2 separate regions of the Homo sapiens genome follow, and region 2 is linked to region 1. The links come from fine-mapping of genetic effects on gene expression. A gene starts in region 1. The other region holds a variant in brackets. All regions are shown on one strand. Distances are between the middles of the regions. Region 1 holds the start of DHRS7B (dehydrogenase/reductase 7B). Region 2 overlaps DHRS7B (dehydrogenase/reductase 7B).

Evidence for each region. PIP is the estimated chance that this variant, and not a neighbour inherited with it, causes the effect.
Region 2: its variant is fine-mapped to the expression of DHRS7B in fibroblasts (GTEx, PIP 0.94).

What each region holds. Positions count from the first base shown.
Region 1 is chr17:21,123,302-21,131,693 of GRCh38, reverse strand. It overlaps DHRS7B (dehydrogenase/reductase 7B), which reads right to left and starts at 4,730. Exons shown (of 7, transcript NM_015510.5): 1 at 4,703-4,730. The coding sequence starts at 4,722. RefSeq lists an enhancer at 4,409-5,068.
Region 2 is chr17:21,166,848-21,175,239 of GRCh38, reverse strand. It overlaps DHRS7B (dehydrogenase/reductase 7B), which reads right to left. Exons shown (of 7, transcript NM_015510.5): 2 at 3,044-3,222. Among named protein-coding and RNA genes, the nearest start is that of TMEM11, 43 kb to the left of the region's middle. The variant G/T (reference allele first, on the strand shown) is at 4,400.

The DNA of each region.
Region 1 (8,392 bases):
GAACCAGAGCAACTCTATTTTGAATAGAGGCTGGGTAAAATAAGGCTGAGACCTACTGGGCTGCATTCGCAGGTTAGGCATTCTAAATCACAAGATGAGATAGGAGGTCACATAAGATACAGGTCAGAAAGACCTTGCTGATAAAGCAGGCTGAGGTAAAGAAGCCGGCCAAAACCCACCAAATGGAAAATGGCAATGAAAGTGACCTCTGGTCATCCTCACTGCTCATTATATGCTAATTATAAGGCATTAGCTCGCTAAAAGACACTCCTACCAGCACCATAACAGTTTACAAATGCCATGGCAATGTCAAGAAGTTACCCTATATAGTCTACGAAGGGGAGGAACTCTCAGTTCCGGGAATTACCCACCCCTTTCCTAGAAAATTCATGAATAATCCACCCCTTCTTTAGCATATAATCAGGAAATGACCATAAAAGTGGCCAGCCAGCAGCCCTCAGGGCTGCTTTGCCTATGGAGTAGCCATTCTCTTGTTTCTTTACTTTTCTAATAAACTTGCTTTCACTTTTCTCTATGGATTGGCCTCAAATTATTTCTTACACAAGATCCAAGAACCCTCTCTTGAGGTCTGGATCAAGACTCTTCTCCAGTAGCAAATTCAGTGGCCATCACAGACCTCTCCCTCCACTAAGCAGTTTAAATGGCCAAGCCTCATGTTACTGGGAACTTTAGAAGATAGGAGGGAGAGCTCAGGTAAAATCCTAAGGAATTTGTTGTATTTCCTATCTGGGTGGGTGGCAAGAAGCTTTCAAACTGAATTTACACACCATTCAATCCCAATTTTCACCCTCATGCTTATGGCCTTCCAGAATAGAGAGTTCATTTTTGCATTAAAATAACATTGGCTACCAAAGAAAGGTTTCTTATGTGTATAATGGGGTGGGAATGAATAATTCCTACACCATCCAACATTATGGATGTTGCTCTAGTCCAACATTTTACTGTACTGTAAGTAAATTTTTTTTTTAGTTGTCATGCAAACATATAGTAAAAATTTTAAAACTGAATTTTCACTGTTTCCAAAGGGAAAGAGATCTTCTCTCCTTCCTTTTCCTCACAGCATTTCTTTGAAAAACCCAGTATTTATAAATTATTCCTCTGTCCCTTTGATATGTATGCAAATCTTTTTAAAGGCTAAATAAACTACCCCTAGCTTAGCTTGTTTAAACCCAGTAAATACAGTAAAACCCAGGACTGTTTTTCTGAAGGGCCTGGAACCCCCCCTTTACAAACGTACGTACATACATACGTAAGTTTATTTATTTATTTATTTATTTATTTTTTGAGGTGGAGTCTCACTCTGTAGCCCAGGCTGGAGTACAGTGACACAATCTCGACTCATTGCAACCTCTGCTTCCCAGTTCAAGCGATTCTCCTGCCTCAGCCTCCTGAGTAGCTGGGATTACAGGCACACGCCACCACACATTTTTGTATTTTTAATAGAGACGGGGTTCGCCATGTTGGCCAGGCTGGTCTCGAACTCCTGACCTCAGGTGATCTGCCCTCCTCAGCCTCCCAAAGTACTGGGATTACAGGCGTGAGCCACCGTGCTCAGCCAAACCCCCTATTTTAAATGGAAATATCCAGGAAGACAATGCCCCAGCCCTATCCCTATCACTGTGGAAGTTTAGCCTAGGCACCTCAACTACTTGTTTTATCATAGAGCTGTTTCATGTTTTCCTTTGGAAAAAAGTAACTAGGTAGCACAGATGACCAACCCAATTACCAGGTGAATTTAGAATGAACTATGAAAACATGTACAGCAAATGGTGCTGTCAAGTCTTCTTATAAGAGGACAAATTACCATTAATCTTGAGACTACATAATGGGTTGTATCTGCTCAGCTGCATACAAATAAGTGGTGGGATTTCTTTTCTGAAAGAAACTGCATTAGCATATTATCCATAATACATTCCAGTCTGGTTTAATGCTTATTTTTTTCTTTTTCTTTTTTTTTTTTTTTTTTTTGAGTCAGGGTCTTACTCTGCTGCCCAGGCTGGAGTGCCGTAGTATTATCACAGTTTACTGTAGCCGCAAACTCCTGGGCTCAAGTGATCCTCCTGACTCAGCCTTCTGAGTAACTGGGACAACAGGTACACACCAGCACGCCTAGATAATTTTTTATTTTTTGTAGAAATGGGGTCTCCCTATGTTGCCCAGGCTAGTCTCAAACTCCTGGCCTCACATGATCCTCCCACCTCAGCCTCCCAAAGCGCTCGGATTATAGGTGTGAGCCACCACCTACAGCCTCACAGGGGTCTTTAAGTAACAAGATACAAGCTCCTCCTAGTCTCAAGACCTCACACATGCCCTTCCCTCCTCCTGTTAGCTCTTTGTCCAATTTAACTCCAACTCAGTCCTTTAAGTCTCAGCTAAATATTATTTTCTTGGGAAAGCCTTCCCTGTCTCTCCTCATTTCCCCCTCCGCATGCCGGTGACTCCATTATGTATCCTCACAGCACCCTCTACTGTCCTCCACAGCATGCATCACAATCGTAATTAATATTTAGTTTTATTTATATATTTACTATCTCCCTTGCTAGATTTATAAGCAATTTAAAGACAGGGGCTTTATCTGTTTTGATCATCATTGTATCCACAACACCCAGCACAATGCTGGTACACTGTAAACGTTCAATAAGTATCTGAAGGAATGAATGAAATTTGTAGCTAAGCGCTAGGTTCTGGAGTGACATGGCATTGGATCGGCCTTTACTAGCTCTATGCCTTTGTTGTTGTTTGTTGTTGTTGTTGTTGTTGTTTGAGACAGGGTGTCACTTTTTTTTTTTTTTTTTTTTTAAGACGGAGTCTCCTCGCTCTTGTCGCCCAGGCTGGAATGCAGTGGCGGCATCTCGGCTCACTGCAACCTCTGCCTCCCAGGTTCAAGCGATTCTCCTGCCAAAGCCTCCCGAGTAGCTGGGATTACAGGCGCCCACCACCACGCCCGGCTAATTTTTGTTTGTTTGTTTGTTTTGAGACAGAGTCTCACTATGTCGCCCAGGCTGGAGTGCAGCGGCGGGATCTCGGCTCACTGCAAGCTCCGCCATCCGGAGCACGCCATTCTCCTGCCTCAGCCTCCCTAGTAGCTGGGACTACAGACGCCCGCCACCAAGCCCAGCCAATTTTTTTGAATTTTTTTAGTAGAGACGGGGTTTCACCGTGTTAGCCAGGATGGTCTCGAGGTCCTGACCTCGTGATCCGCCCGCCTTGGCCTCCCAAAGTGCTGGAAATACAGGCGTGAGCCACCGCGCCCAGCCAATTTTTGTATTTTTTAGTAGAGACGGGGTTTCACCACGTTGGCCAGGCTGGTCTCGAACTCCTGACCTCAGGTGATCCGCCCGCCTCAGCCTCCTAAAGTGCTGGGATTACATGTGTGAGCCACTGCGCCCAGCCAAGACAGGGTCTCACTTTGTCACCCAGACTTGAATGCAATGGCGTGATCTCGGCTCACTGCAGCCTGTCTCCCAGGTTCAAGCAATCCACTTGCCTCAGCCCCAACAAATAGCTGGGACTACAGGCGTGTGCTACCTTGCCTGGCTAATAGCTCTATGCCTTTGGATAAACTTCTTAACATCTCTAAGCCCATTTCTCCCTCCATAAATAAAAATTATAGTTCCTATGATTAGGGTTATTACAGGATTGAATAATTCAGTAAAGGGATTAGTACAGTGCCTGTAACATAGCAAACACTCAAAAAATATCAACTATTATTAAGGAATGGAGAAAAGGGGACATGTACATGGTAGGGAAGGCATATTCCACACCCTTGGCAAAGGCACAAACATAGCTTCCATTATGCAAACACACCGTTGCAATCGGCAACAGTGTAAGCAAGAATTCTGCTTACTAAATGTATGAGTGTGTGAAACCCAAACGTTACTTCAAAAGTAACTTCACGATTCTCCAATCACTACATGGAAGGTTTGGAAACTGAAAAAAAGAGCATTATGTGGCTACCATTTGTTGAATACCTACTATGTGCCAGACACCAGCTGAGCACCTTGCACGCGCAGTCTCATTTACGCTTCACAACAACCTTATGAGTGGGCTTGTTACTCCCAAAGTTACAGCTGAAGAAACACTCAGAGTTTAAAACATTTGCCCAAAGCCGCACAGCCAGGAAGCCGCAGAGTAAGTATTGGAAGAGCAAGATATCTCAACCAGCCATTCCCGTGGACGCTCGAGTCAGCACCCTCCTCCTGCCTTCTGAAAAACCGGACTTCCTTTGCTAGTCCTAACTCGCCGTCACTGGCTAAGGTGCCACTGGCCCCCAGCGCTCAACCCTCGGTCCTGCCACTCGCAGACGCTGCGGAGCCTCCCCTACGTCGCGCAGAAATGTGGGAATAAACAGGTTGAAGCCAGGAGCCCTGTGGGCGCGAGGCCTTTCACACACAGCGCCCGGCGCGACACCCATTCCCAGCAGCGGAAACTGGACTCAAGACACCTCGGCGACAGGCGGGTTTCCCCGCCACGCACTCGCCGGAGCCAGGGCTCTGGTCCCAGCGCCTGGGCTGAGTCTTCCTTCAGAGTTCGGCGTCGCGGGGATCCGGAAGCCGCCCAGGGCCCGCGGCCTTAGCTCGACCACTACACCGCTTCCCCTCACCCAAGCCGGGGCGTCGCCTCAGCTCAAGGCCAGACCCTATCGCCTCATCTCGGAGGTTCCTTCTTCCCCAGCCCCTACCTGGTAGCCGGAGAGACCATAGTCAATCAACTTCATCCTCCCGCCTCGGAAGTGACGTGTACGCAGCCGGCGAGGCTCCGTCCAATCCCAGCATTGAGGCTGCGCATGCGCGTTGGGTGGGCGTCCCTCAAGGTGTACACAGGACCCGATGGACCCGAGATCTGATAGGGTCCACCCGCATAACTACAGTGCCTTCATCTTCCGGAGGGAAATTCCGAAGGTCGTGGTTGGTGTTCCGTGGACTTCCGGCGAAGAACACAGTTGGAGAATTCACGATACAGTTATCAAGATGATTATAATGCCACAGTAATCAGAACAGTGTGATAACTGGCACAAAGGTAAAAACAATGAATGAAAAAGAGAGAGACCAGAAACAGACCTGCAGCTATGTAGTCACTTTTTCCTCCTACAAGTAGCCACTGTAATGCAATAAGAAGAGTTTTTTCAATATATAGTGCTAGGTCAATTGAAGGTCGATTGGGGGGAAATGAACCTTGACTCCTATCTCAAGTAAAATAATTCTAGACGGATGGTAGACCTGAATGTGAACAATACAACTCTAGACAATAAAATCGCAGAATATTATGACCATAAGAGAGGAAAATAACGTGTTAGCAGAACACAAAAAGTGCCAGTCCTAAAGGAAAAAGCTGATAAATTGGGTGTCTGTAACTATAAGACACCGAAAAGACCCCATTGAGAAAAGGGAAAGACAATAGAACAGACAAGATATTTGTAATACATATATCTGAAAATGAATTTTATTCAGAATATGTACGTACTTCTTGCAAGTAAATTTTTTAAAGGACCCGAAGTGATTTAAAAAAAAAAAAAAAGCATGAAAAGAGGATATTGAGAGAGTAAAGGGCAGAGGAAGGAAGGGGCAGGGCAGAGGAAGGAAGGGGCGGGGGGACTCTTATCGTTCAAAATCATAAGATGGCAAATGTGTGTAAGGTGGAAAATCTCCCTTTCTGTTCTCCAGGACCCACTTCACCTCCCCCTAGGTAACGATGCTATTAGCTATGTGTGTCCTTCCAGAGCCAGTTTATTCATAACCAAGCAATTATGTATGTATTCAGCACCCCCTTGTTACACAAACAATAGCATTCTGAAACGTCCTTCTGTTTCTTGCTTTTATTAACTTTAGCGAATTAATATATCCTGGAAATTCTTACAGATATTCACAAAATCTGAAAATGGGAAATTTTATTTTTAACTAAATATTTATTTTTGACGTTTTCACAAAAGTTTTTATACCTTTCTGGCCCCTCTCCATTGTTCTGGAAACTCTAGATTCCTGCTTGCCAATTCACAAAGTTTGAATATCCTTGTAGCAAACCCAATATGAACCGTAAGGCAGAAAAATAGGGTCTGGAGACAGGGAACCTAAGGCCAATTCACGCTGACTTCCTAGAACTAAATCAAAAGGAAAACCCGAACTTTCCATGCCCAGGTAACAAAAGGAACAGAAGCTAGTCCCTTTGCAACCTGCCCCGCTTTTCTGCCTGGCAGATGAAAAATTGAAGGTACCTCTGATTGGTCCCCTCTTGCAACCAATCAGGCTGATCACAGGCCACTACTTCTTTTACATAGAGTGTACACCAAGTAACCAACGGGAACCCTCTAGAGGGTATTTAAACTCCAGAAAATTCTGTAACCGGGCTCTTGAGCCACCTGCTAGGCAGGCTCCCAACCTGTGGAGTGTGCTTTTGTTTTCAATAAATCTCTGCTTTTGTTGCATCATTCTTTCCTTGCTTTGTTTGTGCGTTTTGTCCAATTGTTTGTTCAAAACGCCAAGAACCTGGACACTCTCCACTGGTAACACCTGAGTCTTTATTGCATGACTAAGTCAGTTTCCTGGGGTTCATTTCCCAGGCCTGCTACCCTCTTAGCCTACCCACTCTTCAATCCTGCATGGAATTTGTTTTAGAAGCAACTCAATATATTTCAAAGTTTTGGTAACCAATTTGAATTGCATCTGCCAAATGCAAGTGTAAAAACTCTAACTTCGCAGCCAGGATATTATACAAAAAGGATTCCAGTGGGCCGGGTGCAGTGGCTCACACCTGTAATCCAGCATTTTGGAAGGCTGAGGCAGGCGGATCACCTGAGGTCGGGAGTTTGAGATCAGCCTGGCCAACATGGGGAAACCCCATCTACTAAAAATACAAAAAAATCAGCCAGGCATGGTGTCGTTTACCTGTAGTCCCAGCTACTCAGGAGGCTGAGGAAGGAGAATCACTTGAAACCAGGAGGTGGAGGTTGCAGTGAGCAGAGATCATGCCACTGCACTCCAGCCTGGGCAACACAGCGAGACTCCATCTCAAACAAACAAACAAAACAAATAGATTCCAGTGGTTAGCACAGTTCCATGGCCTTCTATGAAAACAAGATGGAAGATTTTTGTTTCCAGGAAGATGAACTAGACACAATTTTCCCTATTCCTTTTACTAAGTACAACTAAAAATTGTGGGCATTATATATAAAACAATCTAAGACTCCAAAAGTTGGAGAGAAGGCAAACCAGCTAGCCACCCTGGGACGCAAGGAACAACATGGTGGGTGTTGCCTTATATATCCCAGACTGGGTGCTAGGAAGCAAGCAACCTGGAAATGCCGACAGGCAAAGACAATGCCCTAAGAAAAGCCTTCTCTCTCTAGCCACAGGACCAGGAAATGGGCAGCCTCAGAGGACAGAAAACGTTTACACAATAATGGCTCTAATCCAGCCCAAACCACAGAAAAAGCCCCATCCCCATGCTTGCCTCTTGGAAAGCCTAGACTGCCACGCATGCTAGGCTGTAAAGAGGCACCACTGTCCCCTCTCCCTGGCATGGTGTCAGAGAAGGCCAAGTGGAGGGCTGGATTTTCTTTTTATTTTTATTTTTTATTTTTTCTTTTTTTTTTGAGACGGAGTCTGGTTCTCTCACCCAAGCTGGAGTGCAGTGGCACAATCTCGGCTCACTGCAACCTCTGCCTCCTGGGTTCAAGCAATTCTCCTGCCTCAGCCTCCTGAGTAGCTGGGATTACAGGCTCACGCCACCACGCCTGGCTAATTTTTGTATTTTTAGTAGAGACGGGGTTTCACCATATTGGCCAGGATGGTCTTGATCTCTTGAGCCTGTGATCCACCCACCTCGGCCTCCTGAAGTGCTGGGATTATAGGCGTGAGCCACCGCGCCCGGCCGAGGGCTGGATTTTCATTCCCACTGAGAGGTGAGGAGACTCTCCCCCAGCATGGTATCAGTGGAAACCATATGGAGAACCTGGACTTCTACCCCACTTAATTGTAAGAAAGCACTCATCCTCTTCCCTGGGGTGATGTCAGAGAGAGTGTTCCATCAAAGCCACCCCCAAAGCCACCCCCAAATGCCCAAGGAGCTGAGAAAACGTAGGAAGCAGACAAATCCAGTTTGTCCATATAGGATAATTATTAGAGGGAGCTTACAGACAGAAGCATGGTCTTGGGTGTCCACAAGGCAGGTGGATCTCCACACAGTAGCCCCGTAGAACCAGGGCTTATATCTTGGGGAAAAAATATACTTACTCTTGGAGGAATGTGTAGATGGTTGAGAGAATGCTGTGGGTGTCACAACCTATGATTTCTGCAACAGCATCAAGGGTTGTTTCTGTAAAAAGGCAAAAGTTACAGTGAATAGGTGATCCGGTATAAAGAGTAATACATCAACT
Region 2 (8,392 bases), 44 kb before region 1:
CACCAGGGGTCCTGAGAGGTCTGAGGGAAGGCTCCCTGACGTCTGTCTCATGGTGTGAAGCCTCCGTGTGCTCCACAGCTTCTTGTTCAGCTCCCCACACAGCATTTGCTCATCCCCCAGGCGCCTCTCCATACACCCGACAGTCTTCGGGAAAGAGGTGCTAAGTAGACTCAATCTAGACACACTATCTTCTTTGAAGGAGGTGAGGTTGGTGTGTTCGTTGGCTCATCCCAACAAAGGGCAAAAGCCCGGAGAGAGCACCCACCCTGGGTAGTGAGGCCTGGTCCCAGCGCCCCAACCCTGCCTCCCTGGTGCGCTTCTCAGCAGAGCAGCAGAGCCCCCACAGGAATGAGGGGGGTGATGGCTGCACTCCAAGCCAGATGCCAGCATTCCTGAGGCTAGAACTGCTCATCCGGTTTATAAATCATTCCCAAAGGCTAGGAACCTTGGGCCCTGCTGGCTTCCTCACCCCATTTTGTCTTGTCCTGACCAATACATAGGACATTTGTGAGGTGCCACCAAAGGGTGCAGACACAGAACCCTTCAAAGGTGGGAGTCCCGCTGGAGTCTAAACAGCTTTGGGGAGATGACTGCCTCAAACCTGTTTGAGTTTTGCTTCCTAGCAAAGCTAAAAAGAGAGGAAATGAAAGTTTGTGTAGGGAGTGACAGAAATGAAAACAACAGATTGGAAGGATTCCATTTTCATTTATTGAAAAGCTGATATTGGAAGGTAGGAGGGTCCAAGGAAAACAACTCCAAGGTACGATATATGAAGGGCTGCAGATGACTGTCCAGTGCCGCTGGCACGCCTGGCTGGAAATCAACAGAGCTGTGCACAGCCCTGTGGCTAAAGCTGGAGGAAGGAGATATCCAGAACGTTCTGTTCCTTTAGTCAGTGGTCCCACACTATTCTACAAGGACAAGCTCAAGAGGCTTAAGTACACAAAACAAGAGACAAGATAGGAGAAACACGGAAAACTGAAGACTCGTTGCATAACTCCAAACCTTCCGGGTGGCTGACACGGCAGGCAGAGCCACTGAGGACAACATAGCTCTGCCTCCTCACAGAAGCAAGGCAACATCAGAACGTCCTTGGTGGCATCAACAGTGGCTGTACTTGACATGGCCAGTTAAGAACCTGCCCTACTTTATCTGGATGGAGGGACTCTTGTTCCCAAAAAGTTAAATGGGGCAGAATATAAGCAGTGACTGGAATCCAGGAAGGGCCTGACATCTTATGATACATAGACAGGTCTGGTGACCTCCGTGACATTTTCTGTTCCCTTCATAGTCTTGGTGTCAGGAGAGGAGATGCAGAATGAAGATGACAGCATGCTTCTCAAACATGCATGGATGGGAGCACTTGCGACTCAGAGCTCCACCTCTGCCAGCCCTCAAATGCTCTTCAAGGACTTTCACAAAATGCTTCTCTTTGAGCTCAAGAGAAGTGGCTGCTGACCACCCTATATATAGTAACTGAGTAAGGTCAGAGGACTGACGATGGCAAAGGGCCTGCAGACAGCTGTCCCTGCAAAGGTCTGGATATCCAATGACAGATATGGTGTTCACCCCTGGAGACCTCACCTAACATCCACAGTGGTGCACAAATGAATCCATACTCCCTAAAGCTTTCCCAGGCCACCCCTGGCCAACTGCAAGCCACTTCCACCACAAAGACCCACCTGCCTCTCTGTGTTCATGCAACACCCAACTGTATAAGTCCCTACAGGACCGTGCTTCTCCCCTACCTCTGGGCCTGTCTGGAATGTTCTGTCTACTAGCCCACCTATTCCTTCTACCTGGCCATCTCCCCTGCTGAAGCTTTGAGACTGTGAGTTCTAGAGACAGAGATGTGGGTTTGACTCTAGGTTTTGTACCTTCTGGCTGGAAGTCCTAGTCATTCCTTCTCTGAATCTTAGCTGTGAGAAGTCAGTGAGATCATGCATGTAAAAGTGCTTAGCACAAGTCAGCACATATACATGTGCCTTGTTGCCACCAGGCTGGTTTGAGAGCATATGTTACTGCAATGGCAATATATTGAGATAAGTCCTTGCCTTTCTCCTTACAACAGACGACCGTGACCTCCTTGAAGGAAGGGACCCTGTCTTTCATCTGTTTGTTCTAGAACCTGACCCAGAGCCTCCCACTTTAGCAGGTGCTCCATCAGCTCCAGCTGAGCTATCACCAACCAGAAGATGTAGCAGCGGGTGGGGTCACCACAATTCAGGGAACTCCTCAGCTTTCTTCCATGGAACTCAGAGTAAGCGTGGATGGCAGATGGTATGGTGTGTGCATGTGCAACGTGCCAAGTCAATATACGTGTGTGGCAGGAAAACAATGGAGCCCTGTAACTCAGAGGCTTCCAGAAATGGGAGAAGGGGGAACCCAGGTTTTGACACTCCAGGCCAGGGTCCCGGTACACCATTCCTGAGACTTAGAAGCTCATGGTGTTCACTGGGTTGGAATGGACCTAGATTGGAGACCCTGGAACAGCTGAGGCACCATTTATCTGTCTTTGACCTTGTCTAGACCATGCTGAGGGGACAGCTGGGGGCCTGGCCTGGGATGGCAAGGCCCAGAGAAAGCATGCACCAAAGCTGTGAACCAGAGGCCCCGGCTGAATCTAGGAAAGGACATGTTTCATTTGGTCCTCATAGAGGTAAAAACACGTTTTAAGTTAGCTGTCCATATTTGGAAATTGGGATATTTCACATAAAATTCCTACCTCAGCAAGCAACTGAGGCTGAGCAGGGCTGCCCTGTGAGGGGCAGGTATCCCATCCCACCCCACCCCACCCCACCCCCGGGGCCAGGCTGCTTCTCTCACACTTGCCTCCCACCCTGACGCTGAGTCATTTCTCACTGTGCCTTGGCTCCTGCTTTTTCCACTTGTACCAAGGACAGTGCCATCCGGCCCACTTCCCTTATCTGGCCTTCTGCTGCCGCTTCGGGCATTTGCGCTGGTGGTCCCTGTGCAGCTGGGCCGCTCCTCATCCCTGGCTGACTTACCCCCGCCCCCTGGCAGCACTGCCTCCAGGACCCACCTTTGCCCAGCCCTGAGGTGGCGCCTGTGATCACCACCACAGCATTCCGCAGGTAGGCCTTCCCGCGCACCCACTGCAGCAGCCGGAAGAGGCCGAAGACGCCCAGGCAGCCGAACAGCAGGGGCAGGATGGCTGTGGAGGTGATGAAGTCCATGGCCTTCACCTTCGGCAGACTCTTCCTGGAAGAACCAAAACCAAACACACCAGTGACAAAGTAGCAGAGTTCAGGGGACTTTCCTAGGCTCTTCCTCTCATCTGATATGAATCCCAGATCTCCCTCTGTGGACTCCAGCTCTAAGCCCTAGCAAGCATTGACCCAGGCCCTGCACCCTCGGCCGACTGTTCAGCATTGTAGAACTTTCTTCCTCTCAGTACTGACATGAGCGGACAGAAAAGCCACAGGCCTCATGCTGCCCCTCAGGGAACAAGCGGAGATTGCCATTCAGCCTAGGACATAGTCACCCACAGTGTTACAGGAAGAGGTGGTGTGTCAGTACTCACCTGCCTCTCCTTCGGAAACCTGTGTTGGCCTTACCTCAAGTAATGCCTGTTTTCATTTTCAATCCCTGAATACTTGTGAAACTAGAAAGGGGTTTTTTGAGGAAAGGAAAAAGGAAGTCGTACCAATTCTTATCCTCTTCAGAGCAGACACTCAGAGGACGGACGTTTCTGGGTGGAGCAGCCCCTAGACTGTTACAGTGAGGGCCACAGATGGACTTCTGACCACAGGCCTCACAGACACCCAAAGGGGATTCAGTGCAGGGCCCTGCCCCAAGCACCAGCATGGGCTCCGGCCGGTGAGCGTGCTGCCCCGCTGTGCCTGTGGCATGTTCCTGCCCAGCATTCCCCAGTGAGCCATGAAATCTGGAGGCTGTATGAGTGTCTGTGCAACAGTGTGCAGTTGATTCTTAGAAAATGTGTGTTTTTCCCCATCTGCCCTTATTTCCCCTGAACCTCCCCCATTCCTCCGCATTCACCTGTCCTCCTGTGCCCAAAGCAGGAGATAAGAGGGGGACACAGGGTTAAAGGAAGGCTGAGGAGGAGCTGGTGAGGACCGTGGTGAGCACCATGTGCTGTCGCTGGGAAGCAATGCCCTGGAAGGCCACTTGACGAGCGAGCCAGAGTCTATGAGACAAAAGGCCCCCCCCGAGTCCACCTCCAGGGCTGTGGTTTACGAGCACAGAATCCTTCTCAGGAAGGAAGAGGCTGGAATCCAAGAAGAGAGTTCTGGCAAACCAGACTGTAGCTCTAAATTATTCATAAGCTTGGAGCAATAATGTAAAACCCTCAGCCACCTACTTAATATCCCATCTCAAGCCCACATATAAAAAAAAAATTCTGCTTCCTTTCGTAAGA[G/T]GACATCAACTCTGGATGCCAGAGTGAAGCCAGGAACACTGTGGACTCCCAACACACATCCATCTATGCACCAAGTCGCTTTGATCCTGAAGTTCATGTTCAGGGTGGCTGTCCTGATCTATGCTAAATTGCCCCCTACAAGAGGATTCTACTGCAACGGAACTGTCAACTGAACTAGATTAGCATTTACTTTTTCACCTGCTTTTCCAGATACACCTGAATTCTTAACCACCATAAAAAACAGCCACATTCTTGGACTGTAAAAATGACAGTTTCCCATCAACTGCCACTTAATCCACCTCTGAAAACACCTCAGCTACTATCTGCTGCATGGATAAAGCTCCCTCTTGCCCTACACTATGCCAAGCCTCCATTGTATGAACTGGGGATTAAGGTGGTATCTAAAGCACCAAGCTTTTCACCAGGCACTACTGGTACCATCCCTGCCCCAAGAGGAAGTTCTGACCAGGTGTTCTTGCCTGCAGGCTATGCTGGGTCCCAAGGACCCTTTGTGTGGAATCTGAGAAGTGCTCAGGAAAGCTGTAGAGTAGGCACCGAGGCCTGTGCCACTCCAGGGTTCTGTGGGTGCTGCCTGGAGTCCTGCACGGGACCAAGATCCTGAAAACAGGGAATGTGGGAGGGTTTCCTAGGGGAAGGAGGGATAAACAGTGGGAGGCAGGAATGGTTGCCATTTTGTTGATATAGCTTTACCAGAAAATTACAGCAATTGACAAAAGGCAAGAGAAGGCTCCAGGCAAGGATAGCTTAAAACTTGCATGTAATAAGCTGGTTGAGGGGTGGGGGCTTGGGAAGAGTTCAACCCGGCTGGATGGCTATTTGGTAAAAGCTTTTTTCTCACTGCAATCCCAGGTCTTTGTACCAGGTAGGTCTCAGGGTAGGACCACCCTGCCTTGTCCAGAATGGCCCAGGGCCCAGCCACTGCCCAGGATGAGCTTGAGGTATGAAAGGGGTGGGGGCCTCAGCTCAGGGAAGGATAGTAGGGCTCAGCCTCTGGGGCCGGGACCCAGAGCCCCACTAGGCGTGTTGGGTGGAAACCCCTCCGAACACTCCTCCGTGGGCCCCTGGAGGCCAGTGCCTGTGAAGTCCACCCAATTTCAAATTGACAACCTGGGGCTGAGGCACAGTGCCACCGAGGTCATGGGGGTCAAGAGCCAAGTATGCAGCCTGTCGCTTCTCAAAACTCAGAGACCACTTGAAAAACACTAACTGCAGCACAACAGCGGCAGTGCAGGGGTCATGAGGATGAACCCTCAAGCCAGCCTGGCTTGGGTGACACCCTGGCCCAGTCACTTGGCAGCCTGGCAAAGGGGCCTCACTGCCCTGGGCCTCAGTGTCCTCGCCTCTGAGCTGAAGTTGTGAGAGGACCTCCCTCCTGGGTTTGTTATGAGGTTGGATGAATTCATCTGTACACAGAGGGAACACAGCTGCCACCAGCATCATAATGACCACCATTAACTCAAAGTTCCTGGATCAGGACCTCACCTCCCAGCAATCCGACTCCCAAGACTGTCTGAAGGGACCCCTGGCTTGTGAAGTGTGGTTCTTTCCAAATAAAGGAAGCTCATTAAATGTATTAAGTGTCCAATGTTGTTTAACTTCTATATTTTCATAAACCTTTCAGTTTAATCAAATTAACAAATAGGAAAAAACTCCACAACATTGGCAGAAGTCAGGCTCTCATGTCCCAAGTTTTGTGTTAGAAAATGTGGTTATCAAGGCCAGCAAAGCAGGAGAGAGCAGACAGGTACTAAAATGTCCCTCAACCCCGTCTTCACACCCAGGGAGGAGCAGGATGAAAATAAACCAGCCCAGCAAGGCTCCCCAGTGGAAGATGATTAAAGTTCCCAACAAATTGCACTTTCATGCAACCTAATTAAAACTCAAGCCAGCAATCCATGACATGAAGAAAAGAGCGAAAACTACACACCGTCTTGTACACTTCTGGGATTCCTTGAGCACCTGACACAACATCACAGGCCAGCCTTGGTCTCCTGGCCCTGGAGACCACTTTGCCTGAGGCAAACATGGCGCCGGGTGAATGGGATCCATCCTTGGCCCGGGCCGCTGTCTGTGGGGAGAGCGCATGTCTGCATTCAGTCTGGTAAAGTGCTATCGAATCAGAATGCAAAGCAAATTAAAAGCCAGTGCCAAGGCCAAACGCAGTGCCTCGCGCCTGTAATTCCAGCACTTTGGGAGGCTGAGGTAGGGGGATCGCTTCAGCCTGGGAATTCAAGACCAGCCCGGGCAACATGGTGAAATCCCGTCTCTACAAAAAACACATAAACTAACCAGGTATGGTAGTGCACGTCTGTAGTCCCAGCTTCTTGGGAGGCTGAGGTGGGAGGATTGCTTGAGCCTAGGAAGTTGAGGCTACAGTGAGCCAAGATTGCACCACTGCACTCCAGCCTGGGTGACAAAGTGAGGCCCTGTCTCAAAAGCAAACAAAAAACAAAATCCAGTGCCAACTCTCCCCTGCTAACAAAGAATGACCATGGTGGGAAAAGACACCCCAGAGTGAGCCATTTATCTGAGAATCAGGTTCAATTCCAGCATAACTTTCCTGACTAGATGAAGTTGTTCATATTGATAATCCCGACTCTTTCCAGAGTTTTTCAAACTCTGAAAGCCCTCCTAATAGTTCTTCCACTATGCAGGGCATGTGGCCACACTGCTGGGCCTTCTTGGGTTCTTAGAGACAGCTGTGCCAACACTTTCCTAGCTTGTCTTTGGAAGTCAGGATGACCATGAGAGCTAGCCATGGAAAGCCCCACCACCTTGCTGTGGTGTCCAGGGCTTTCTACCAGCTAAAAGGACAGCTTCACAGTGGAAGAAAGGAACAGTGTTCTAGCTGGCCACATTTCCAGATTAGGAAATAAATCTACATAAAGCAAGGTCAAAGGGAGGCCTGTTTTCTTTGAAAATGGCATACAAGAAGGATTTATATATATGTATAAACTTTAATATATTTATCAATCATGCATTTTATACCAAAATCCTTATTAACTGCTAGTTTCAGATATATAGCCAGATCATGGACTGAGAAGGCAAGATTGATGGTATAAAAAGGGACTGGGAAAAAATATCTGGCTCACGATTTTCAGCATTTGGAGATCAGCTTGTAGAAAGAAGGGACAGAGTCTGTCTAGCACCACTGTGAGCCATGGCAGAAAGCAGGACAGAGACATGGGGAGAGAGAGTGAAGCCAGAAAAAGAAGGTGAGAGCCCCTCAAATAGAAACCATAGTGCACACGGCATCTGGAAGCAGAGGGCACCACCTACACATGGAATGTGTGCAGTCATAGTCACACTCTTAGTCCTTGGGCAAGAGACCTGAAACACAGTCTCACACTGATGAGACTCACGAACTGGCGTGAGGAAGGGAGAGAGCTCAGGGGCTCACATATTAATACTGTCTGCTTATATTTTCATCCCTTGCCAGATCCATGAGCTCTAGACCCAGGTTAAAAGAGTGCAAAGGTAGCAAAGTCCCGCTAAGGGTGAGGGTTCCTTGGGCCCGGGCAGCCAGAGTTCGGGGCTTCTCTCTGTGATTCTGCTGCTCCTTTACTTTCTGCTGAACCCACCACTGTGTAACTCCCTCACATCCATTTGTGCAGCTCATCCACCCTTTAAAGGGCTTCTGGAACCTCAAATTAGACATGAGACTATCACCAAGAAATCAACTCTGAGCACAAATGTCACCCTTTATGTCATCCATTCCATTCCTTCTACTTTGGCCAAAATTCTCCCTTGCATTTCACAGACGGAATCCGTTCCTAAGATTCCTTTCTCTCGAGCATTTTTTTTTTTAAAGAACTGTTAACAAAAATAGGTTGTTGGAAGCTACTCAGAAACCACATACAGAAATTAAACTACTAACAGCCACATCTGAGAATCAAAGGAGGGGATCTCAAAACCCACCAAAGTTTTTTTTAAAAAGAACAATTTCAGGTCTGTAAGAAGGATTAGCCATGA